7 linked regions of the Homo sapiens genome follow. The protein of the gene in region 3 interacts with the protein of the main gene of each other region in a pairwise test. Each region holds a gene or a part of one and is shown on either strand. Other genes may lie near its edges.

Region 1 (3,251 bases), on a different chromosome or scaffold from region 3:
GAAGTCTGATGGCTGGCCTCCCCTCGCCAGAAGGCCGAGTCTTTTGCCCCTGAACAGGCACATGTCATACACCTGCAATGTGAGATGATGCTCTTCAGTGACCATGATGGATCAATACAAAAATAACTAATTCTTGGCAGGGCACAGTGGCTCATGCCTGTAATCCCAGCACTTTGGGAGGCCGAGGCGGGTGGATCACGAAGTCAGGAGATCGAGACCATGGTGAAACCCTGTCTCTACTAAAAATACAAAAAATTAGCCAGGCGCGGTGGCGGGCACCTGTAGTCCCAGTTACTTGGGAGGTTGAGGCAGGAGAATGGCGTGAACCAGGAAGCGGAGCTTGCAATGAGCCGAGATCGAGTCACTGCACTCCAGCCTGGGCGACAGAGCAAGACTCCGTCTCAAAAAAAAAAAAATTAAAATAAAAAAAAACCTCATTCTTTAACCATGTCTTGAAATGTGACAGAAGAAAACACTTTAAATTGCAAACATACCCCAAATTTTTCTCTTCTCACGAAATGTGACTATCTTTTAATATCTCACACATCTCACAGTCATCTATGGCTTTTGGTCATATTCATTACCACAGTATATTATTACACCCTCTTTGACGACACTTATGCCACTGGTGGTCTTTGGTCAGAAGTCACTCATAAGAACATGAGATCACCTTTGGTATTTAGAATAGATGAAAATTCATGATCCAGATAAAAACTAAGAATATAAGCATGAAAAGTAAAATCTACATGAGGAAAAATATGCCTGACATCCACATGGCAACACTGACTCACAGTGACCACCGGATAACATGGTAACATTATCAACTTGATCTAATACATGATGTTAATGGGAGGTTGTAATGTAGCTTCTTCATTAAAAAATAATAATTGTTAGTATGCAGTTGTTATAAACAGTTAATAAGCTTATTTCTAAAATACATGAACAGAAGTATTTGTTGCCAAGAAACCGCATTAGTGTTTTTAGTCAGGTATACTCATACAAAGTTAAAAACGAAGTGAGACATTACATTCAGTTGTGAATAACAGCAAATGCTTGAAATTTCCTGATAAGAGCAAGGTGGCTCTTCTCACATAAAAGCCCTTGGTGAGACCAATCACTGCACAATGCAGCAGAGGAACAAGCTCCCATCTAGTTGGTTTAATCAAGAACAGGCTCGCTAATCCGTAGAAACAACAATGCTTGCAATACAAAGTAGACCTCTTAAACCAACTCAATCTATAGAAGAGTTGGGCATCAGTGAGTATTTCCAGCCATAACAACATTTATTAGTTCTCTGGTAAACATTTTAACATTTCTGAAGAAACAGCAAAGTGGGCATGTATCTTTAATGTGGAGCACTGGGGACATATCTGGAGACCTACAACTCTGAGGAACAGAGACAAGTGATTTGGGGGATATTCTCGATTAACAAGCCAAAGAATCAGGAAAATGGGCTGGAAGCGGGTAGCCACACACCTCTCTCCCTGTGTGGGGCCTCTAATATGTGACTGATGCCTTCCTTTTCTGTGCCTTTGAAATCTCATGCAAGATTGGCTATAGGTGAATTGTATTACGAAACCATCCAAGTTCTTCTAGATTTTATTGTCCTATCGCAAGTCTCTCTTCTCAATTCAAAAAGCAGTTATCCAGAGGTTCTTTCACCACTCTCTTTTCTTGTGTTTCAAAGGAAGTGGGACAACAGAAAGCTTCTCCCGTTGCTTCCACTAAAAGGATTTCTCATCTATTAATGGTATGAGTTCTTTCATGTTCTCGACATGAACTGGCACGAATAAAGGCTTTGCCACATTGCTTGCATTGATAGGGTTTCTCTCCAGTGTGAGTCCTTTCATGATATCGAATGTAATTGGAAATAAAGGCCTTACCACAGTGCTTACATTCATAGGGTTTCTCTCCAGTGTGAGTCCTTTCATGATATCGAATGGAACTGGAACAAGTGAAGGCTTTGCCACATACCTTACACTCATATGGCTTATCTCCAGTGTGTGTCCTTTCATGTATATGCAAGGAAGAGAAATACCTGAATGCTTTTCCACATTGCTTACATTCATGGGGCTTCTCTCCAGTGTGCGTCCTTTCATGTATACGCAAGGAAGAAAAATACTTGAATACTTTTCCACATTCCTTACATTCATGGGGTTTCTCTCCACTGTGCGTCCTTTCATGAATTTGAAGTTGTGAAGCACATCTAAAGCCTTTCCCACACTGCTTACATCCATAGGGTTTATCCTCAGTGTGTGTCTTTTCATGCCTTTGAAGGTCCGAGGTACATCTGAAGGCTTTACCACATTGCCTACATTCATAGGGTTTCTCTCCAGTGTGAGTCCTTCCATGCTTTTGAAGGTGTGAGCCACATCTAAAGGCTTTCCCACACTGCTTACATTCATAGGGTTTCTCTCCAGTGTGAGTCATCTTATGATACTGAATGGAACTGAAAGAAATGAAGACTTTCCCACATTGCTTACACTCATAGGGTTTTTCTCCAGTGTGAGACCTTTTATGTCTACGAATTTCACTAGGAAAACTGAATGCATTCCCACATTCTTTACATTCATCGGCATTCACTCCTGTGTGAGTTCTTTCATGTACTGGAAGGGTAGTGGAACGAGTAAAGGCCTTACCACATTGTTTACACTTATATGGTTTCACACCAGTGTGAATTCGTTCATGGATAAGACATAAATTGAGAAAATAGAAGGCTTTCCCACAAAACTTACATTTATAAGGTCCATCTCCACTGTGCATTACCCTGTGTCTTTGAATGCATGAATGGGAAATGAAGGTTTCTGTACATTCTTTACCATCATAGGGTTTCTCTTTAGTGCAAGCTTTATCATGTGATTGAAAGGAGTCAAGATAACTGAAGGCTTTCTTACATTCCTTATTTCTATATGGATTCTCTCCATATTCCTGATACTCAGATGACTTGTGTCCAGTGTCAGCTCTGATATGCGTATTAAGAGATGAATGACCCGTGCCAACTTCTCCACACACACTGCTTTCACATGGTGTTATTCCAGGAAGAGTTTTCCTGTTCAGCATGTCATCTGCAATCTGGTTGAAGCTTTCTCCACAGTGATGACTTTCTTTACTTTCACAGAGTTTCTCTCTCATAAGACTTCAGTGAAAAATGAGAAGCACATTATTAACGGTTTGATTAAAAGTGACTTATAGGGCCGGGCACAGTGGCTCACTCCTGTAATCCCAGCACTTTGGGAGGCTGAGGTGGGCAG
Region 2 (3,243 bases), on a different chromosome or scaffold from region 3:
CCACATGGCTCTGCAGTCTTGGATGGCAAAAACGAAGGAGAGAACTTGTGAATTCCTACCGTTATGGTGGAGTGATCAAGATTATGAATTAGATGCCTGCTGGAATTCTCCTCTTACCCTTGTCCTCACAGCTCTCTTTTTCCCCTTCTACCTTCAAATATCACTACTTATAGCCTTTCCTTTATGTTTAAGTTTGTTTCTGATTCTTCAGGTTCTTATTTCTACATCTATGAGCATATTGACTTCAGGGACTGGATCTTATTAACTGTTTTATCCTCGTTATCTGGCACATAGCGTGTTCTCAGTAAGTACTTTTCGTACTGAGACAAAGGAGACAAAATTTTACAGAGAAGTCAAAAAGACTCCAACTAGTTTTCACATTAAACTTACTTCCAACTTGTGAAGACTGTTGAATTAAACAGAAGAAATTAAAGACAAAATTCAGCTTCCATTTGGGAGGGTATATCTAAAATGCAAAGATTGGCCAGAACCAGGGAAGATGACTTGCAACAGGAAGAACTTTTATTGAAACACCACCATAGAGAAAAAGCCAAAGAAATGGTACTATTCTAAAAATAACTTGTCTTAATTCATTGGAAGAAAAGCAGAAAAATAAGGGGACCCTTATTTAGGAAACTAGCTTCATTTTGGTATTTTAATTTGGGGGCCATTCTGTCTCAGAGGCTGGAGTTCAGGAAGACACCCTCTGTTCATTCTTGTTGTTGACTTTGGTGGATTTCTCTTCCACAGTGTGAACTCTGGATGAGAGAACTTTGCCACGAGGATCTATCTCTTCAACAACTGTTTTGACAATGGTGGTTTTAGATGAATCTAAAATGCCACATATAAACTGTTTAGAATTTATCAAATTCATAAATAGGAAATAAAACATCATTTGAAACACATACAAATAAACACTGAATGCCTAACACAGCTTTTGTTTACCTTTTGTTTGATTTCCTGGGCCTCCATAGCCTTTTGATTTAGAACAGGAGCTGTAAAAGTATAGAGCGCTTATATTAATTATTCTGTTTTACTGAGGAAACTGAAAAATAATGATTTAAGGTGGGAATTCACTGCATTCTGAAATAACACTAAAAGAGTATTATCTATGCGTGATCTAGATCATAGATATTTTGTACTTGATTTCAAATCATCTTTAGTAACCTTAAAAATGAATTGTTTTCTCAATGGCGGCAATACTGACCCATCTTCTCCATCTATCAGGAGGCAGTAGGTCTCAATTTCTTTTTCCAGGTGGACCTTGATGTCAAGGAGCTGCTCATACTCGAGCTTCTGGCCCTCGGTCTCGGTTCTGACCTGGTGCAGCTGCTCCTCCAGGGCCCCGATCTGAGCCTGGATCTGTGCCAGCTGTGCACAGTAGTTACTCTCGGTCTCTGTCAAGGAGCACTCCAGGGAGTGTTTCTGTAGTTTGGTAAGACATGGTTTAATAGAAAAGGTCACGGTGTTTTAGAATAAGCCAAAGCATTTAAGAGATAATTAAGAGAATTATCCTTACATCATGCAAATAATTATATTTACCCAAAAGATTCCACTTCTTCAATATTAATTGTTGCCTTTATTAAATGTCCTACTACTTTTCTATTTGAGAATGACACAGCTGGTGCTGAATGTCCCTCAGATGCCCAGGTGTGCTAAAAAAGATGAAATTGTCTCTTCATAGGGCACAGACTGAAAGATCCCTCCCCTGCACCAATATAGCCTGTGCTTGTAGAGTGTGGCACAATTTGCTACTTTACCCACAACTAGAAGTCCGCCTATACTTTGCTACTCATTTCTAGCCATGTGACAGTCTTGTCTTATGAGGATTGTAGCTCTTCTATTAAAAAGTCATCCTGCAGTAAACCGCATAAACGTTCCATGAGTAGAATAAACCACAGAAAATAATTACCTTCTTAGACTTTAAATACAGTAGTTCAATTCATTGGCTTGTGAATCTGAATGGGTTTACAGATATACTCAGAGGGAACACTCACTGCAATTTTACATGGAATGAAGATGAGAGTGTCTTATCCTTTCACCTGCAAGTATTTTTTATATAAAGTCTTGATTTTATATACATTCATAGCCTCATCTGTGGATAAACTCTGGTGGTTTACTAGCCATAGTGGGAAAAGTATAGACTTGGGAGTTAGAAAATTTGGAGAGAACTTCTGGATTCCTTCATACCCAACTGTGGGACTGTGGGAATTGCTTAACTTCTTCGAATCTCAGAGTCCTCTTTTGGAAATAATGACATGAGTTATAACGTCTGCCCTGCCCATGCCCCGGGGTTGTTGTGGACTCACATGTGGGCGGAAGTGCTGGGCAAACCCTTAATGAAAGCAGTTATGATTATCATTACACATGTTTAGTTTTATAGTCAGCCTTCATGCCTCGACTTTTCCTCTGTCTATGCCACTTACAAAGGAACTTGTAAGTGCTCTTAATTGAGTGGCCAAAAGGAATGCTAGATGAAGCTAGGAGTGGTGCAAATGTATTTTTGCTCTCTTTAAGCAGTAGGATTTTTTTTCTTTTTTTTTAAATGGACACATAAGAATTGTATATATTTATGGGGTTCCATAATTATATTTCAAAACACACAATGTGTAGTGATAGAATCAGGGCAGTTAGCATATCCATGGTCCCAAACATTTATCTTTTTTGTGTGTGTTGGGAACATTCAAAATCCTCTCCTTGAACTATTAGAAATTATAGAATAAATTATTCTTAACTGTAGTCATTCTACAGTACTATAGAACACTTGAACTGATTCTCCCTATTTCTCTGTAATTTTGTATCCTTTAACCAACCTCTTCCTATCCCCCCATCCCCTTCCCAGGCTCTAGTAAGCACTTATCCCACTCTCTACTTCTGAGATCAACTTTTTTAGCCTCCACATATGAGTGGTTTTTGATATTTTGACTTATGATAGAAGATTCAAAGTCAAAACGATTTTCTTTTTCCAGTATCTTGACTGTATTTGCTAATTTCTAATATTTCATAATTATTGGCATCCAGCTATACTTTGTAGGCAAAGAGGATTGTCATGTGCAAAATGCAAATATGTCTTATGTCAAGCACTGTAATTAATGGTTAAAAACTAAAATATGTAATTATGTTGGAAGAAAATTCTCTTCGATTATTTTTTTCTCAATTTCTAAAGCAAATCTGTTTTGTAACTTTTCGCTTACCGTTGCTAAGAGGGACTGAAGTTCAATCTCAAGGGTTTGAAGAGTGCGT
Region 3 (3,500 bases):
AGATGACAAGGCCAAGGGTCATAGAGAAATTGAGTCGCAAATGTGCAGAGCTCGCCACACCTTTTGACCTCTGGACTAGTTTGGTCAAGAGAAACTTCCAACTCTACCTCAGGATGGATAAATTCCTGGTCACTGGGAGGTCCAATCAGAAACAGGACATGGAATTCTCCCCTTGGGCTTTACTTAGAACCAGTCCCAGGAATATACAACTAGCATAGCAGCCCATTCCCATCTGAGATCTCTCTGAAGAATATGGACATTTTCCTTTCACTCCTTCCTATCTTCTTTAGTCTGAACCTCCATTCTGGAGCGGGATTGATCCTTATGACAAGATAAAATGGTAGCATGGCATTTTGGCTTACTATTAGGAGTTTCTTGATTTACCTAACCACCGCGACCATATGCTGTTGGCTCAGTTTTGTGCTTGATAAAATCTTAGCATGTTACCAACAGAGCCGCTTTGACTATGTTATGTTACATTTTAAAGCAGAGATTTAAAATTTGGGTGGGATAGGGAAAGGAATATGATGTGTCAAAATCCTGAGAGGGTATCTGGAATCTTAAAAATATATTAAATATTAAAATATAATTTGGGTATAACAAAAGACCTTGATCATCCCCCTAATATAACCTATTCAAAGTAAAAGGCTTTTGCCTCTTGTGACTGTGGGTAAGTGGTTTAATCTCTTAGCTTCTGCTTCTCATCTATAAGATATGGATAATATATTATTATCTAATGCATAAGATTGTTGAGACAATTAAATGCCATATGGTATGTAAAGTACAGCACTTAGCACATTGCCTGATACAAACTAACCACTGAATAAATGATATCATTATTATTACAATGATTACATTATTAATACTATTATTGGCCTGGTAGGGTACATAGAATACAGACTCTTTTTTTTTTTTTTTTTTTTGAGACGGAGTCTCACACTGTCGCCTGGGCTGGAGTGCAGTGGCGTGATCTCAGCTCACTGCAACCTCCACCTCCTGGGTTCAAGAGATTCTCCTGCCTCAGCCTCTCGAGTAGCTGGGATTACAGGCGCCCACCACCACGCCTGGCTAATTTTTTTTTGTATTTGTAGTAGAGACGGGATTTCACTATGTTGGCCAGGCTGCTCTCGAACTCCTGACCTCTTAATCCACCTGCCTTGGCCTCCCAAAGTGCTGGGATTACAGGCGTGAGCCACCGCGCCTGGCCAGAATACAGACTCTTAATTTAGATGACATGGCAATTCTTAAGAGGGAGTGCGTGAGTTATTTTTGGCTATAGAGAGAGGATTTTTAAAAGGCTGAGAAATATTATTTTCAAGGAAAACTGTGCCCACAGCCTATCACTTTCTATTTATTGCCTTTACTTTGTAGTGATGCCAGTTTTGAAGAAATCCCATATGACTTTCAGTCAGGTATTTTGTAAGACCATCTGTCTTCATTTTGGCTCGTCAAGGAAATCCAATCCTAAATATTAATCAGTTGAGAGGGCTGGCTGTAACTGTCTTATTAACCAAGTTCCCACCTTTAGCTCCCAGATCCGGATCTATGTACTGTTCTAAGTTGTTTGATGTGGTTCTCACCTCCTCTCTGAGCTCATACTGATCGATGATGCTTTTCAGCTTTTCTGCAAGCTCTGTGTTCTCCTGACAGAGCTTCATATTTCGCTCACTCTGCTGCTCGATCTGGCCCTGGATGTCCGTGAGGGTACTCTGGAAATGGCTTGTGATTTCCTTCCTTTTCTCTTCTTCCTCACGTGCCCGCTGAAGCGCCTCTTCCTGCGGATAAAAAGCAAAACATTTTGTTTAAATGCACCCCGGGTTTATAGAACTCAGCATTAGGTCACCTAAAGGAGATAAGTGTGCAGAGTAGGTGGGATGTTTTTTCTCAGTTCTCTAGAGCTAAAGCTGCTCAGCCCCAAAATAAATGTATGAGTAAAGGTTTCAGCTGTGAGTACATAGTTACTCAGAACAGGTGCTGTGAAGGCCTTGAATTTGTAGTCAGTGATGAATAGACTTGTTTTAAAGATGATGCGTCTCTTGCTGAGTGAATGAACTGCAGCGATTTCTAACAAACACACAGTCACACGATTTTGATCTCTTGGCTGTGGCCTGAAAAAAAGGCCACTTGAGTTTACTGATGGATGAGACAGATCATGTGTTTCTCTGGTTTGGTAAAGGGAGAACAATAGATCTTATATTTCCCTGTAAAAACCATGGCATATTAACCACATAATTATATTACCAAGTTTTGTAAATATAAGTGATCACAATAAAAATTTTCTATTTGTGAGAAAAAACTTTCATCAAAAAGCTTTAAAAAAGGAAACTAAGACAGCATAGCTCAATTACAGCCATTCAAGAATATAAAAGGGAATCTTTCCAAACATGCTGGATATTATTTTGTTTTTGAAAGAACAATCATTAAATGTGTCACATAGGGTAATTAAAATGTTCAATGTAAATTTTGAATCTGAAAGCAATATTAAGTTTCAAATCTTCTTTAACTCTAAAGTGAAACATCTAATTTTCCTTCTTCCGCTTTGTTAACATTGAAGAATTGCAAATTAACTTTTATATCATTTCTGTTCTCTTTTCTCCTAAATCAAAACTCTCCATTCATTGCTAGCCACTAACAATGAGCTCCAATTTCCTCCATATCTATATTGAGAATTGCTTTGCGATTGTTATTCTTTTTGAATAAAAGGGTTTAATTTTGCTACATCCTACCAAAGATAGAGACATTTACGTGGCTGACAAATGATACAGACATTTTAGGATTCCTTTCAGTTCTGATTAATTGTTAATATGAAAGCTTGCTTCGTTGTTGGCAAGTAAAATTATACTGAATTTGATTGCCTACCAAGTTCAAATTATGTAACAGGATTTTTTAAAAGAAATAATAATTTTTAACAGAAGTAATTGTACAGACCTTTATCATAACAGAATAATGTGATCCAAATAAAAACTGATGCTGAGAATATATGCTCTGAAAATATTTTATCATTAGGTTTCTTCTTTCCTCTATAATAACAACACATTTCCCAACTCTAATGTGACTCCTGATGTCAGAATCATAATTTATTCATGTTATAAACCTTTATTAAGCAACAACTTCTCAGGGGTATTGAAGATATCTGTACTTCTTAAACTGAAGAAATAAACTATCCGAGATGTTATTTCCCTGAACTTTGTATACTAACACTTACTATATGTGTTTCGCTAAAAATAATTATGGTTACCAGTTAGGAGCAACTAAATATATGTGTGATTATGATTGTTTCCTCACTGGTCCTGATTAGCTTAGAAGTCAGCAAGTTTGGAATCAGAACTACAGACCATGATTTGAATACCGTTTGTATTTATAAATATTCCATGAATGAATAAATGAAACACCCCATGCAAGTCTGAGTTGTTGTTTTTTTTTTAATTGGGAACTGGCTATAGAAAGAAGGTACAGATGATAGGATGGCACTAAATAAATGTCAAACAAACAATCATAAC
Region 4 (3,500 bases), on a different chromosome or scaffold from region 3:
TTCCATCATGGTTTTGGCTATTTCAGCATCACGTTTCTGTTATTAAAACAAAATTGATCTTTCCGTTTTCAAATTTGAACATAGTACGATAGTATATTTTACACCAATGTTATTGAATATTATAAAGTCTTTTACATAAAATAAATTTTTTCATCTGTCTAGGTTAAAAAGCAAAAGTAAGTTATTATTACCTGAAGGGTGTGAACAATAAGTCAGACCCTAAAGCAGCTTTCCTATCCCTTCAAGTAGCTCTCTCAGGACAATACCTGATAAGGATTATTAATAACTCCACATTCAAAAAACAATGAATACAATTGTAAGTAGTTTCTTAATAACTATTTAGCTGCTAAAGCAGTCATTATCTTATTATTCTATTTATAAACTGAGCTAGGCAATTTTCATCGTTTTTAGCTTCATTGTTTATCAGCTGCTATTTAAAGATGGTACTGCCTCTTTCTTACAGGTCTGCTATTAAATGGCTTTGAGCAGCTCTTAAGTTTCTCCTAGCCTAAACTTTCTTTCCTGCCATTGGCCCTTGACGTTTCCCCTTTCTGATTTATTAAAGGCCCTTTATCTGAAAAGAATCACAGATGCTACTGTGCCTATTTTCTACAGCTTTTAATTCACTCAAGACCATTCCCATTGTCAAGAGACAATCTTTCTTCTTGGATGGGTTAAACCCCTTATTTCTTTTGAGCATTTTTCAAATCATTTAATAAAATAAGTTTTAAATGAAATATACTGAGGCAATTTTTTAAACTACGCTTTACTTTTATGATCACATCCCGAATGATGGAATGGTCAGCAGCATCAAACATAAAGAGTAAACAGATTAAAATATGAATACTGAATGTCATTCCTGACGTCACTGAAGCCTTTAACATATACTCTGATAATATGACTTGACCAAAAATGTTTCTGATTATCTTCTTTGTACATGCTATACTAAATTCTTTATTAAAAAATGAGATGACAATAACATTTATGTGTAGATTACCACACACTTACCGAAAACAATGTTCTCATTTTACAGATAAGAAAACTAAGGCTCAGAGAAAAAGCCAAAACTAGTACTTGCATGACACCTAGTCAAGTCCTAGTAGTATTCGACTTTCATTTTGTGGATCAATTTTTATTTGGAAAATAGCAGCAATTCTCGTAGGAGTCAGATTAAAACGTCTACAACTACCTTGAATAACTTCAACTATCAGGATAATTAAAACTGCAAACCACTGGACAAACAGGACATTGTTTGTGCTACTTTCTTTTTCAAAGGACAGCGCTATATGGCTTAGCAAATGAAGTCTCTCCACCTTTTCTTATCACCTGCCACACCTAAAGGTATTCCTGTTAACAGCATGCTGTGTACCCGCTAGACATTTTCTATACTAACACAATTGTACACACGCAACACACACATATATGTGTCATTTATGGTATCTATTCTTAATTGATACCCATATTGCACTGCACTGGTTAAGTATTTTGATATCACCCCATAAGAGTGTGTGTGTGTGTACATATGTTTATGTGGACATACACAATAGATATGTATGTGTATATAAACATTCATATATAATTGGCCCTTCTGTTTGATAATGAGAGCTCAAGGGATGATGTGCACCCTTTTAATTAACTGTTAATTCAGTAAACCCTATTATATATTCATACAGCAAAGCACTCCTAGTGAGTATGCCTGAGATTCCTTTGCCCAAGAGTAACTCTTATCTTCAACTTGGTACCATATCAGGAGTTAGAAAAGGGGATAAAAGCAGAGAGAAACATGAGAAAAAGAGATGGCTTTTATAAAACTGGAAAGTTTCCTACATAAAATTATCAAGTAGTTTACTCTTAAAAACATTTAAATAATTAAAAATTTCATAACATTCTAAAATACACTTATCATGGTAACAATTTGTACTGTACTACTTTGTCAGTGAATAATCAGTTAGAGACTATAAAGAATGCTGGGAGTTACTGAATATAGCTGGTCATTCTAAGCAGCAATGTGTTTCTGAAAGGCTCTAATATTAAAAATGAAATCACGCAGGATTTTCTACATCTTAAGGATCTGAAAATTTACAAATATTTAAGAAATCTAGCAGTGTAAATTCTTTATACAATATGACAATTTTTTAAGAAACAAGTCTAATTTTTATTTTCTAAATGAAGCTAAAAACATAATGACCAGAAACATGATTACCATTTGTTCATATTTAATGGCATCCTTTTCAGCAATCTGAGCTGCCCTTTCTTTATTCATGTAAGCTGCTTTTAATTTCTTCTCCAATTCTCTAAGCTCAATGCTGTTTAAAAAAACAAAAACAAATTTAAATGTTAGGACCATAAGAGAATGAAAACCTCACAGAAAACTGAGTAACTGTATTTTTAATTTACTCAAAGAGGGAATACAGCGGGTATTATTTTAGATCCATAGGAGAAATAATTCATTATATTTAATGGATGCCTTTAGGGCATTAGGGCTTACATTTTCTGGTTGAAAAGTACTGCTCTGTTCTATTACATTCATCTGTTTGCTTATCCTGTGTCAATACCACACTATCTCAACTGCTGTAAATTATAATACGTCTACATATCATGGATAAGTCTCCAATTTTGGTCATCTTCTTAGAGACTGTCTTAGCCATTCTTGATACTTTCATTTCCATATACATTTTAGAATCAGCTTGTCAGACTTCACAATAAACAAAACTGGCTGTGATAGTACTGAATTCATAAATCAATTTGGAAAGTACTAATATCTTTACATTACTGAGTCTTCAATAAACATAGTATATCCTTCTAATTATTTGGTTTTTTAAAAGTCTATCGATGTTTATATCTGTGTTTTATTTTGGTAGTTTTATACTTTTCATTAGGTATTTTTCATATCCTTCTGTAGATTATTTTTCAAATCTCACTTTCTAATTGTTGATAATTTACAGAAATACAATTAATGTTTATATACTAAATTTATACCCAACAATATCACTGAATATATTTTTTAGTTTTCAGTTTTACTGATCTACAATATTCAATAAACTGAACATGTTTAAAGGATACAGTTTGATAAGTTTTTACATATGTATGCACCTGTGAAACCATCACCACAATCAAGATCATGAACACGTCCCAATCACTTCCTTATAAACCTGTGGTACCTCTCTTCTACCCCTTTATGTTCGCACTTATCCTGAGGCAAGCTAATTTGCTGTCACCTTAGGCAGTATAAATTTTCTAGAATTCATATAAATGGAATCATAGTGCAGGTACCATTTTTCTCTGGCTTCTTTCACTCAATATTTTCAAATACATCCATTTATTGCATATAGTAATTGCTTACTCCTTTTTATTGCAGGATATTATTTTAAGATTATAGATATCCACTCGCATTGCTTATCTATTCACATGCTGATAGACATTTGAGTTGTTTCAGGTATGTGGATATTGCAAATAAAGCTGCTATGGAAATTTGAGTACCAGTTATTTGTGGTCACAGG
Region 5 (3,500 bases), on a different chromosome or scaffold from region 3:
GAGATCAACTTTTTTATCTTCTGCATGTGAATGTGACCGTGCAGTATTTGTCTTTGTGTGACTGGCTTATCTCACTTACATATCATTCTCCAGGTTCATCCAGGTTATTTCAAACGGCAATATTCTGTTCTGTTTTATGGCTGAATAGCATTCCCTTGTGTATTTATACCACATTTCCTTTATACACTCATCCGTAGATGGACACTTAGATTGCTTTCATTTCATAGCTATTGTGAATAGGGCTGCAACAAACATGGAAGTGCTGACATCTCTTTGACACACTGATGACACTCTCTTTGGATACATGCTCAGTAGTGGGATTCATGGATAGTGTGATAGTTCCATTGTTAAAATATTGGGGAATGTCCATACTGTTTTCCATGGTGGCTGTAACAATTTACATCCCACCAACCGTGCATAAAGCTTCCAATTTCTCCACATCCTTGCCAACACTTGTTATATCTTGTCTTTTTAATGTTAGCCATTCTAACATGCGTGACTCGGTATCTCTGTGGTTCCGATATGCATTACCCTGATGATTAGAGAAGGTGAGTGTTTTTTCACATGCCTGTTAGCCATTTGTATGTCTCCTTTTGAGAAATGTCTATTCAGGTCTTTTGCTCATTTTTAATAGGATTATTTGTTTTCTTGCTATTGTGTTGTTGGAGTTACATTTTGGAAACTGACCCCTTACTAGATACATAGATTGTCAATGTTTTCTCCTATCGCATAGATTGTCTCTCCACTCTTTGATTGTTTCCTCTGTGGTGCAGAAGCTTTTTAGTTCAATGTAATCCCATTTGTGTATTTTTCCTTTTCTTGCCTTTGCTTTTGAGGTCCTGTTTTTAAAATATCGTTGCCCAGAACAATGTCATGGAGCTTTCCCCCTATGTCTCCTTCTAGTAGTTTCACAGCTTTGGGTCTTCATTTTAAAGCTTTAAATCATTTTGAGTTGATTTATATACACGCTGAGAGATAAGGGTGGAAATTCATTTTTCTCAGATGAATATCCAGTTATTTTCAACATCATTTATTGAAGAGACTGTACTTTCTCAACATTGTGTGTTCTCGGGCCTTTTGTCAAAAATTAGTTGACTGTAAATGCACAGATTTAATTCCGGGCTCTGTATTCTGCTCCATTGGTTGATGTGTCCGTTTTTATACTGGTACTGTGCTGTTATGCTTACTATAGCTTTGTCATATGTTTTGACATCATAGTGTGATGCCTCCAGCTTTGTTCCTTGTATTCCAGACTGCTTCAGCTGTCTGGAATCTTTCATGGTTCCATACAAATTTTAGGAGTATTTCTTCTATTTCCAAGAAGAATGTCATTGGTATTTTCATAGCAGTTGCATTGAATCTATAGATTGCTTTAGGTTACGGACATTTTAACAATATTTTATTCTTCCTGTTCATGAACACATGATATATTTCCATTCATTCCTGCCTCCTTCAATTTGCTTCGTCAATGGTTTATAGTTTTCAGTGTTGCAATCCTTCACCTCCTTGGTTAAATTTATTCCTATTTTAATTTTTTTGAAGGTGTTGTAAATGGGATTGTTTCTTGATATCTTTTCCAGATAGTTCCCTATTGGTGTATAGAGATACTACTGATTCTTGTATGTTGGTTGTGTCTCATGCCACTTTCCTGAATTTGTTTATTAGACCTAGTAGCTGTTTGGTGGTGTCTTCAGGGTTATTTATAAGTAACAGCTTCCCGTCTGCAAACAGGGCCAATCTAAATTCTTCCTTTTGAATTTAGATGCCTTTTGTTTCTTCTTGCCTAATTTCTCTGGTTAGCACTTCCAGAACTATGTGCGATAGAAAGGGCAAAAGTGGGCATTTCTGTCCTGTTCCAGGTCTTAGAGGAAAAGCCTGCAACACTTCCCCATTCAGTATGATGTTATCTGTGGGTTTATCATATATGACCTTTATTGTGTTGAGGTGCACTCCTCTTATACCTAATTTGTGGAGTTTTTAGTCACGAAGAGGTGTGGAATTCAATCAAATGCTTTTCCTGCTGAAATTGGAATGAACCTATGGCTTTTTTCCTTCATTCTTTTCACGTGATATAGCACATTTATTGATTTGTGTATGTTGAAACTTCCCTGCATCCCAGGGATGAAGTCCTCTAGAACATGGTGAATGATTTTTTTAATGTGCTGTGGAAATTGCTTTACTAATACTTTGTTAAAGATTTTGCAACTGTGTTGATCAGGAATTTTGGCATGTAGTTTTTTTTGGTTTTCTCTTCTTTCTGTTTCCTCATCTGGGTTTTCTACCAGGGTAATGCGTTGTGACAGAATGAGTTCGGAAGTGTTCGTCTCTTGTCCGTTTTTTTTTTTTTTTTTTTTTTTTTTTTGGAATAGGTTTAAAAGTATAGCTATTAATTATTCTTCTTTATATATAAATTTGGTAGTATTAGGAAGGGAAGTCATTCTGTCTTGGACTCTTCACTGATGGGGGATTTTTTATTACTGAATCACTTTCCTTACTCATTAATGGTCTGTTCAGATTTTCCATTTCTTCACCATTACATCTCGGTAGGTTGTATGTGTCCAGGAATGTAGCCATTTCTTCTAGCTTGTCCTATTTGTAGGCAGATGATTGTTCATAATCTTCCTTATGATACGTTTTGTTTTGGTGATGTCATTTGTGCTGTGTCCTTTTTCATCTTTGATTTTAGTTATTTGAATCTTCTCTCTTTTTTCCTTAGTCTAGCTAAAGTTTTGTTGATTTGCTTTACCTCTTCAAGAAACCAAGTCATTGTTTCATTGATATTTGTATTGTTCTTCTCATTTCTATTCATTTATTTCTGCTCTGACCTTTATGATTTCTGTCCTAATTTTGCATTGCATTTTTTTCTTGTTTTTCTAGTTCCCCAAGGTGCAGTGTGAGGTTGTTTATTTAAGATGTATCTTTTCTTTTGAGGTAGGTTTTATTGATGTAAACTTCACTTTTAGAATTGCTTTTGCTGTATTTCATGGGTTTTCGTATGTTGTGCCTTCATTTTGCTTCAACTCAAGAAATGTTTACACTTTGCTTCTAATTTCTTCATTGACCCATTGGTTATTTAGGAGCATGTTGTTTAATTTCCATCCACTTCTAAAGTTTCCAAAGTTCCTACTTTTATTGATTTCTAATACTTTACCGTTGTGGTTAGAGAACTGATTTGATGTTATTTCAAATTCCCTTAATTTGCTAGTACCTGTTTTATGACCTGCCCCATAATCTATCCTCGAGAATGTTCCACATGCAGTTGGAAAGAATATGTGTTTTGGAGTATTTGGATGGAATGTTCTGTAAATGACTGTCAGGTCCATTTGGTCCGGAGTGCAGATAAATCCCACTTTTTGTGGGGTCAATGTTCTGTCGGGACAATCTGTTCATTGCTGCAAGTTGGGTGTTGAAGTCCCCTACTATTACTGCATTGCACTCTATCTCACCATTTATACCTTAATGTCTGCTTCATATATTTAGGTGCTGCTATGTTGGGTGCA
Region 6 (3,500 bases), on a different chromosome or scaffold from region 3:
TCATGGTTCAGATTTCATCATTATTCACAATAGAATATCCAATTGTGCAGAGTGAGATTGATTTGAGAATAAATGAAGGACAGTTGAGAGATATGATAGAGGATTTAATGGGTCATTCAAATAGCAAAGGTGTAATACATTTCATAATTAAACCTTGTTGAGGTCTTGGTTATTAGGCAAAAGTTAACGACTGAGAATTGATATCTGGCCAGGATGTAGTTCATTTGCACCATTTTGCTATTATATGAGTTTAATTTCCATAAATTGTTAAAAAACATACTTGGTTATTGTTTTAATTTTTTATTTAATTAACAGTGTTTTGGAATTTTTGTATTTGTATTATAGATGAATATGTGTGTGTGTGTGTGTATATATATGTATATATATATACTCACTTTGGTAAAACTTAGCAATATCATGTAACAGAAGAAACCTAAAGGATTTTTGGATGTTTATTTGCTTTGTAGTTTTTGACAGATTTAATTTATATTTGAATTATCTGAGGAAAAACTTCAATATGTAATTCACATTCATAGTCTAAAGACTATGAAGATATAAAGATATTGATTTATCTACATTTCAGAATGAACAATAGACATAAAATTGATTTCTTCTAAGGAAATTCTTTTAATGCTTATATACAGATAATGAGAGAGATTCACCAAAGTAAGCTTTTTCTAAATGTTTGGTTTGATAGAAAAATCAAGTACTGTATACAGGCAGTTCTATCTAGTTTTGCATTTAAGCAAGGATATGGTTCTCATATGCACAAGTTTCAGTAACATGGTACCATGCAAAATGAAGACTGCCTGTATAACAATAGCATTTTTATCTAAAAAGACCATTCCCCAGTATTCTTTATTGTAAGTCATATTTAGTATGACATTATGACTTTTAACCACTCTGTAGACAATGTTACCATTAATAGTTCCATCAGTATCTGAAATGTATAAAACCAGATAATTTTGTCTGACAAACTGGCTTCTCTTTTACAACTTCTCCAAAAATTGCTTTCTAAAAGTTAGAAGAGCCATGTCCACTTAGAATAAAATGATTTAATAAATAAAGGGCTCAATTAGGTAGATTCTAGATACCTAGGAAATCAATTCATCATTATCTCAATAAATTTATTATTAATTTGTAAACAGTTGATAGTTTTATTAGCTTTCTTAAAAGTTTTGTTAAAATAGTATCACCACCTATATATAATTCATGCTTTGTATCAGCACTCTGGGGACAAGTAAAGCAGAATTTTTATTTTAATGCATGAATATACTTGCATTTTAAGGAACCAATATAGTGTTGAAATGTAACCTTCTCTGAAATGATATTTAAATATTTGTAGATATTTGGAAACATATCTCATATTAAATTATTGGTATTTAAATTGGGGGAGATGATTTTTTTCTGCAATTTACTGCCTTAGAATTATGGAAAGAAACATTCCTTTTAAGTAACATGATAGACCCCTTTTGTAAATTGTCTAAAGATTTACACCAAATACTCTCTACAGCAGAACAGTACACAAGACTCTGGACTACAGGAAAGTGAAGTATCAGCAGAAAATATCTTAACTGTAGCCAAGGATCCAAGATATGCCAGATATCTCAAAATGGTTCAAGTGGTAAGCTAACTTGGTCTGTCTTCTTTGTGTAGCAGCCTCACTTGAAATTCTTAACCCTGGAGGTTTTACTGTTATTTTTTTCAATCTGAGAAAACTGCTAAACCAAGTAACCAAGTTTTCTATTCTCTTACTTCCTTTCTATTTTAATTCTCTGATTAAAAAAAAAAAAGGAAGTCAAATCTTTAGAATTGATCCCACACTTTAAATTAACATAGTTTAATATAGATTTATGTACATTTTTTTGCATTACACAAAGTTATCAATGCAAATCTTAGATACAGAAAGTAATGAAAGTAGACTATTCATTTGGTAAATCAGTTGACTCTAGCTTAATCCCCATATTATTAGCACAAATAATATTTTTTAAAAATTTTTATGTTTATCAATGATCTCTTGGCCATGTGTAATGCTTTTAATATTATATGACTTCAGAATTCATATTTTTCCTGAGAAATCATAACATGCTGTGGTACCAAAAATATCTGCAGTTGTCTGTGATAGCAGAAGCTAACATTTTTTTATTCCTTTAGAAAGTATTTCAGTAGTTGAAAGAGGTAGTTGTCCATCATTTTTCTGTTAATCAAACAGTTAAAGCCTGGCGCAGTGACACACACCTCTAATCCTAGCACTTTGGGAGGCTGAGGTGGGAGGATGACTTGAAGACAGGAGTTTGAGACCAGCCTGGGCAACAAAGCAAGACCACCTACTTCTACATTAAAAAAAAAAAAAAAAAAAAAAACCTAACTCCATATGATGGCATGCACCTGGTAGTGCCAGCTACTCAAGAGGCTGAGGTGGGAGGATTGCTTGAGCCCAAGAGTTCAAGGGTGCAGTGGCTCACCTCACTGATTGTGCCACTGTACTTCAGCGTAGGTGACAGAGCAAGACCCTGTCTCAAAAAATAATAATAATAATAATAATGCTTTTGTAAAATTATATTATCAAGCAAAAGAAGCACAATACTAATACTAAAGGACAGTTTTGTTTTGCTGTCCATGGGATAGTTTATCACCTAGTAATTTAAAAGCAAATTCTGACAACCAGAAAGAGTAGATTGGCTCATTTGGAAGCTGCACTTTTCCTAGCTATCAGAAGTGGATTTTTCACTTCCACAGTTCTTTTTTTCTGAAGCCTAGAGCTCAGGATATTGGCGGTCAATTTAGAAAAAAATAAACCAGACTTTGGGATGAAAATAGATGAAGTTTTTTTAATTAACAAGAATAAAACAAAGCCAGTTTAAGTATGAATCATGATGAACACGTTTTTAAAGCTAGAACCCAGGAAAGCCTAAGCTTAAAAGATAGACTTGTTAAAAAACAACAACAACAACAACAACAACAAAAACTATTTCACTCTTTTAAACAAAAGGGAGATGCTTCTAAATGACTCAGAAAGATTTTTTATGTTAGCCCCTTCTTGCCAAACCTATATAAAATAACAAACAGGAAAATCTACTAGGTGATACTCTGTAAAAATGCCCTGAAATCTTTATGAAGGCTGCATCTTAGGATAACTGTTAAATTCTTGATAATTGTCTTCAATTTTATAAGAACTTCAAAAAATCTTTTTCTTTTTAAATCCACCATCTGTTTATTTCACAAATATTTATCAAACACTTACTTGAAGCTAAGCTACTGTATTAGGTATTATCTAGATTTATTTAGCCAACTAAGGTTTCCAGATACCACTTGCAATTTTTATTTTTGTTACTAATTACGTCAACAAGTTCAATTGCTTTTCAGTCATAAATATACATATAAAATAAATGACCCGGGCCGGGCATGGTGGCTCACTCCTGTAATCCCAGCACTTTGGGAGGCCGAGGCGGGCGGATCACTTGAGGTCGGGAGTTTGAGACCAACCTGACCAACATGGA
Region 7 (3,500 bases), on a different chromosome or scaffold from region 3:
CCCGGGAGGCGGAGCTTGCAGTGAGCCAAGATTGCGCCACTGCACTCCAGCCTGGGAAACAGTGCAAGACTCCGTCTCAAAAAAAAAAAAAAAAGAAAGAAACATAGAGAACAACGAATCAGGAATCAAAAGAGGAATCAATCAAGAGGAATCAGAGGAATCAGAAGCCTTCCCAGCACCCTCTCCTTGGAGAGAGGCAGGAAAATCTCTAGGGTCACATCTCCCCTTGGCTTCCCAACCAACACTGTATCCACACTTACTTTGGCAGCTTGAGAGAACTTGTCCTGCTCAGGCCGAGAATGTAGTTCATAAGTGACAAGGCTGCTATCTGGGGGGGTCCCAGTGGTTTTTCCCCCTGATCCCCCTTTGCTGTTCTTTGTTGCTTCCAGCTGCAGTAGTAGGCGCCTAGTTAGGAGACCGAGTAATAATATCATGACTGGAAGGAGAAGGGCCAGTCACTCTCCCTCACTTTTGCCTCATAATCAGCATTAAGAAACATCTAAGCCACTTCTCTGCCACTTAGCACCCCTGTCAGTAGCTGGCTGAGTCCATCCACAACCCCAGTCAGCAATGATTTTTCAACAAAGTAGGGTACCCACTTAGCCAGGGCGCCATCGGGGTCGGTAAGGTTGATTGCAGCATCTGGTCCCAGCAGCTTCTCCAGGTGGGAAGCAACCAGCTGCTGCTTCAGGGCTGCCAGCTGTTTAGCCAGCAACACAGGGGTCAGCTTCTCCTCTGTGGCTGACTCCTTCACTGTCGTCTAGTATGAAAAAAGGTAGAAATCGGGGGATGGCAAGAATGAATCAAGAAGCAAAAAAATAGGTCAAGCCCTTTAAAGGTAGTTGTAGCTGGAGGTCACTGGGATGGTTTTCAGCATGACAGACTGCCCACCTGTATGTAGCACTGCATACAGATGGATGCATATTTGTAAACTCTGGAAACCTTAGCCCCTTTATCCAGGAGCTTAAGGAATCTTTCTTTCTTTCATTTTTTGAGATGGAGTCTCGCTCTGTCACCCAGGTTGGAGTGCAGTGGCATGATCTGGGCTCACTGCAACCTCCGCCTCCGAGTTCAAGCAATTCTCCTGCCTTAGCCTCCCGAGTAGCTGGGATTACAGGTATGCGCCACCACACCTGGCTAAGTTTTTGTATTTTTTTAGTACAGATGGGGTTTCATCATGTTGGCCTGGCTGGTCTTGAACTCCTGACCTCAGGTGATCCGCCTGCCTCGGCCTCCCAAAGTGGTAGGATTATAGGCGTGAGCCACCGCACCCAGCCAGGCAGGGAATCTTTCTCTTCTTGCTTGAGGTCTTCCTCTACTGTGTAAGTCACAGCAGAGAAGGGAGAAGAGAGTTTGTAGTTACCTTGATTTTTTCAACTTCAGTTGTCAGCTCTTGGACCTCATGCAGTAGGCGCTGGTACTTTTGCTGGGGTGTCTCCTTCACTCCCAGACCCTCTCCAAGCTAGAGAGCAGGCACAGAGGGTAATGTTATATGTCTCATTACAGGGAGCCTCAAGAATTCATCCACACCCTGGGCCTAAGTCATAAAGGTATCATATCCAATTGAGAATCCACAACACCCTAGTACCAAAGAACTGAGGACAGCTAGAGGGCTGGAGGCTCTCCAGAACAAACAGCAGTAGGGCAGAGTTTCCCTGGCTGCATCCTGCTGCTTCCTCAGGAACAGAGGAGGAACAGAATCCCGCCTGTATCCCTTGATCTCCCTACTACATGTCTGCTAGATAGGGTCACTACACCATTCCCATCAACACACACACACACACAACAAACCATCTCATATTCTCCAGATTCATATCCTGTCCTCTTGGTTTTTCCAATACGATCTGAGAAATCTGCCAAGAAAAGAAGATGGAACTGAGGGCCTGATCTAGGCCCAAGGCAGTCATGGTCTCAGGTGACTGTGAGGGCTTCCATAAAATATCTCCATGAGGGACCCCTTCCCCCAAGCACAACTCACTAAGACTTTAGGACAGGAAACCACTTCTCATGCTTATCCTCCAGTCTTCCCCCCACCCAGCTTCCAGCCCAGTCTCACCAAGTCCCTTTGTCCCCACTCTCTTGTCCTTGAACTTGTCATAGGCAGCATTAGGATTGACAATGATGTGTTCCACACTTGTGCTTGTCAGCTCCTCCTGCAAGAACAGGTAGTTTAGGCCAGGGACACACTCATTCCCACTCTAGAACTTACTCTACCCCACAAAATCCCCAAACCATTAGGTGACTGGGCCCTACTTGTCCAAGGGGAAAGAAGGGTGGCTCTATTCCAAGGCGCCTACCCAGGCTTAACCTAGGAAACTGAAGCTTCCTGGTAAATTTGGAGCCTCAGTTGTATAAATATTAACACCCTCATTCAACTGGGAGCAGAGGGAGCATAACCTCCCCACCCTCTCTGTACATAAGCCTTCCCATCCCCCCATGCTACCCCTCCCAGTTGTCTGGCACACGCCATGCACTCAAGGCAAGAAACCAACCTGACCTCTTTTAACCTCCCCCTCCCAAAAGTAAATCTTGCCCGCTGAGCAAGTCCATTTTAATGCTAACCTCCCATCCTTGCTAGAAGGAAAGAGGAGGGAAGGCAGATAATCAGGCCACTAACACTGAGTGTGAATATTAGGACTTTAAACCTGTTGAAGGTAAGACACAAGCTCTTAGTACAAAAAGAAGGCCGACAGAGGGCCTGACCAGAAGCCTGATTTCCAGGCTGCCATGAGGCCAGCGAACTCAGGGACAGGGAGAAGGGGCAAGGGCTTACTGGATTATCTTTATGGGACATCTTAGAAGCAACAAACATAGGCAATATCTGCTTGCCAAGAGTATCCATGGGCAAGAGCCACATGTAAGCTCTGAAATGGAGATAAACCAGCATCTCTTCAGAGACGCTGCAGCACCTGATTTTTCTCCCTGACTCCTCTGCTATGCTTTAAGCACTGAAGCTCTTCCAAAAACAGGGGACACAAGTAGGCGGTGAAAGAGACTTCACCCTAGAAACTGAAGCAGAGAGGTTCCCTCCTTACTAGATATCTACATGCTGTTCAGATTCCAGTGACAACACCAAGACTGCACCAAGCACTCCTGACTGCATGTCCCTTTTTCAATTGTCAGAAGCCTGACAGCTCCCAACAGAGTACTGATGGAAGTAGGAGGGAGACCCAGGAGTCCTTTTCTGTTGGGGATGACATCTCTACCTTCTATGGGAGGAAGGCAAAATGAGCCTTCCTTCTTTCACCTAGAACAATGGTTCTCACCCCAGGCTGCATGTTAGAATCACTTATAATTTTTTTTTTTTTTTAAATAGACAGCCGGGCAATGGTGGCTCAAGCCTGTCTGTAGTCCCAGCACTTTGGGAGGATCCTAATTCCAAGTGATCCACCCGCCTCGGCCTCCCAAAGTTCGGCCAAGGCGGGTGGATCTCAGGAGTTCAAGACCAGCCTGGGCAACATAGGGAAACCCCAACTCTACAAAAAATATAAAATAGCTGG

What was found.
Region 1: the proteins of TXLNB (region 3) and ZNF20 interact in binary tests that used the Homo sapiens proteins (3 or more experiments, as listed by UniProt).
Region 2: the proteins of TXLNB (region 3) and KRT27 interact in binary tests that used the Homo sapiens proteins (3 or more experiments, as listed by UniProt).
Region 4: the proteins of TXLNB (region 3) and MNS1 interact in binary tests that used the Homo sapiens proteins (3 or more experiments, as listed by UniProt).
Region 5: the proteins of TXLNB (region 3) and CT55 interact in binary tests that used the Homo sapiens proteins (3 or more experiments, as listed by UniProt).
Region 6: the proteins of TXLNB (region 3) and WASHC3 interact in binary tests that used the Homo sapiens proteins (3 or more experiments, as listed by UniProt).
Region 7: the proteins of TXLNB (region 3) and DCTN2 interact in binary tests that used the Homo sapiens proteins (3 or more experiments, as listed by UniProt).

What each region holds. Positions count from the first base shown.
Region 1 is NC_000019.10:12,130,850-12,134,100, forward strand, and holds the end of ZNF20 (zinc finger protein 20), read right to left. Parts: intron 3,137-3,251; coding exon 1,738-3,136; 3' UTR 501-1,737; downstream 1-500. UniProt on the Homo sapiens protein: May be involved in transcriptional regulation.
Region 2 is NC_000017.11:40,776,308-40,779,550, forward strand, and holds the end of KRT27 (keratin, type I cytoskeletal 27), read right to left. Parts: coding exon 3,195-3,243; intron 1,426-3,194; coding exon 1,208-1,425; intron 996-1,207; coding exon 946-995; intron 832-945; coding exon 692-831; 3' UTR 501-691; downstream 1-500.
Region 3 is NC_000006.12:139,260,999-139,264,498, forward strand, and holds part of TXLNB (beta-taxilin), read right to left. Parts: intron 1,776-3,500; coding exon 1,581-1,775; intron 1-1,580. UniProt on the Homo sapiens protein: Promotes motor nerve regeneration. May be involved in intracellular vesicle traffic.
Region 4 is NC_000015.10:56,444,638-56,448,137, forward strand, and holds part of MNS1 (meiosis-specific nuclear structural protein 1), read right to left. Parts: intron 2,307-3,500; coding exon 2,204-2,306; intron 1,247-2,203; exon of another isoform or gene 1,034-1,246; intron 37-1,033; coding exon 1-36. UniProt on the Homo sapiens protein: Microtubule inner protein (MIP) part of the dynein-decorated doublet microtubules (DMTs) in cilia axoneme, which is required for motile cilia beating.
Region 5 is NC_000023.11:135,164,899-135,168,398, reverse strand, and holds part of CT55 (cancer/testis antigen 55), read left to right. Parts: intron 1-3,500. UniProt on the Homo sapiens protein: Plays a role in spermatogenesis, possibly acting in the regulation of the autophagy pathway.
Region 6 is NC_000012.12:102,037,992-102,041,491, reverse strand, and holds part of WASHC3 (WASH complex subunit 3), read left to right. Parts: intron 1-1,513; coding exon 1,514-1,624; intron 1,625-3,500. UniProt on the Homo sapiens protein: Acts as a component of the WASH core complex that functions as a nucleation-promoting factor (NPF) at the surface of endosomes, where it recruits and activates the Arp2/3 complex to induce actin polymerization, playing a key role in the fission of tubules that serve as transport intermediates during endosome sorting.
Region 7 is NC_000012.12:57,533,693-57,537,192, forward strand, and holds part of DCTN2 (dynactin subunit 2), read right to left. Parts: intron 2,154-3,500; coding exon 2,057-2,153; intron 1,854-2,056; coding exon 1,792-1,853; intron 1,463-1,791; coding exon 1,364-1,462; intron 761-1,363; coding exon 600-760; intron 406-599; coding exon 261-405; intron 1-260. UniProt on the Homo sapiens protein: Part of the dynactin complex that activates the molecular motor dynein for ultra-processive transport along microtubules. In the dynactin soulder domain, binds the ACTR1A filament and acts as a molecular ruler to determine the length.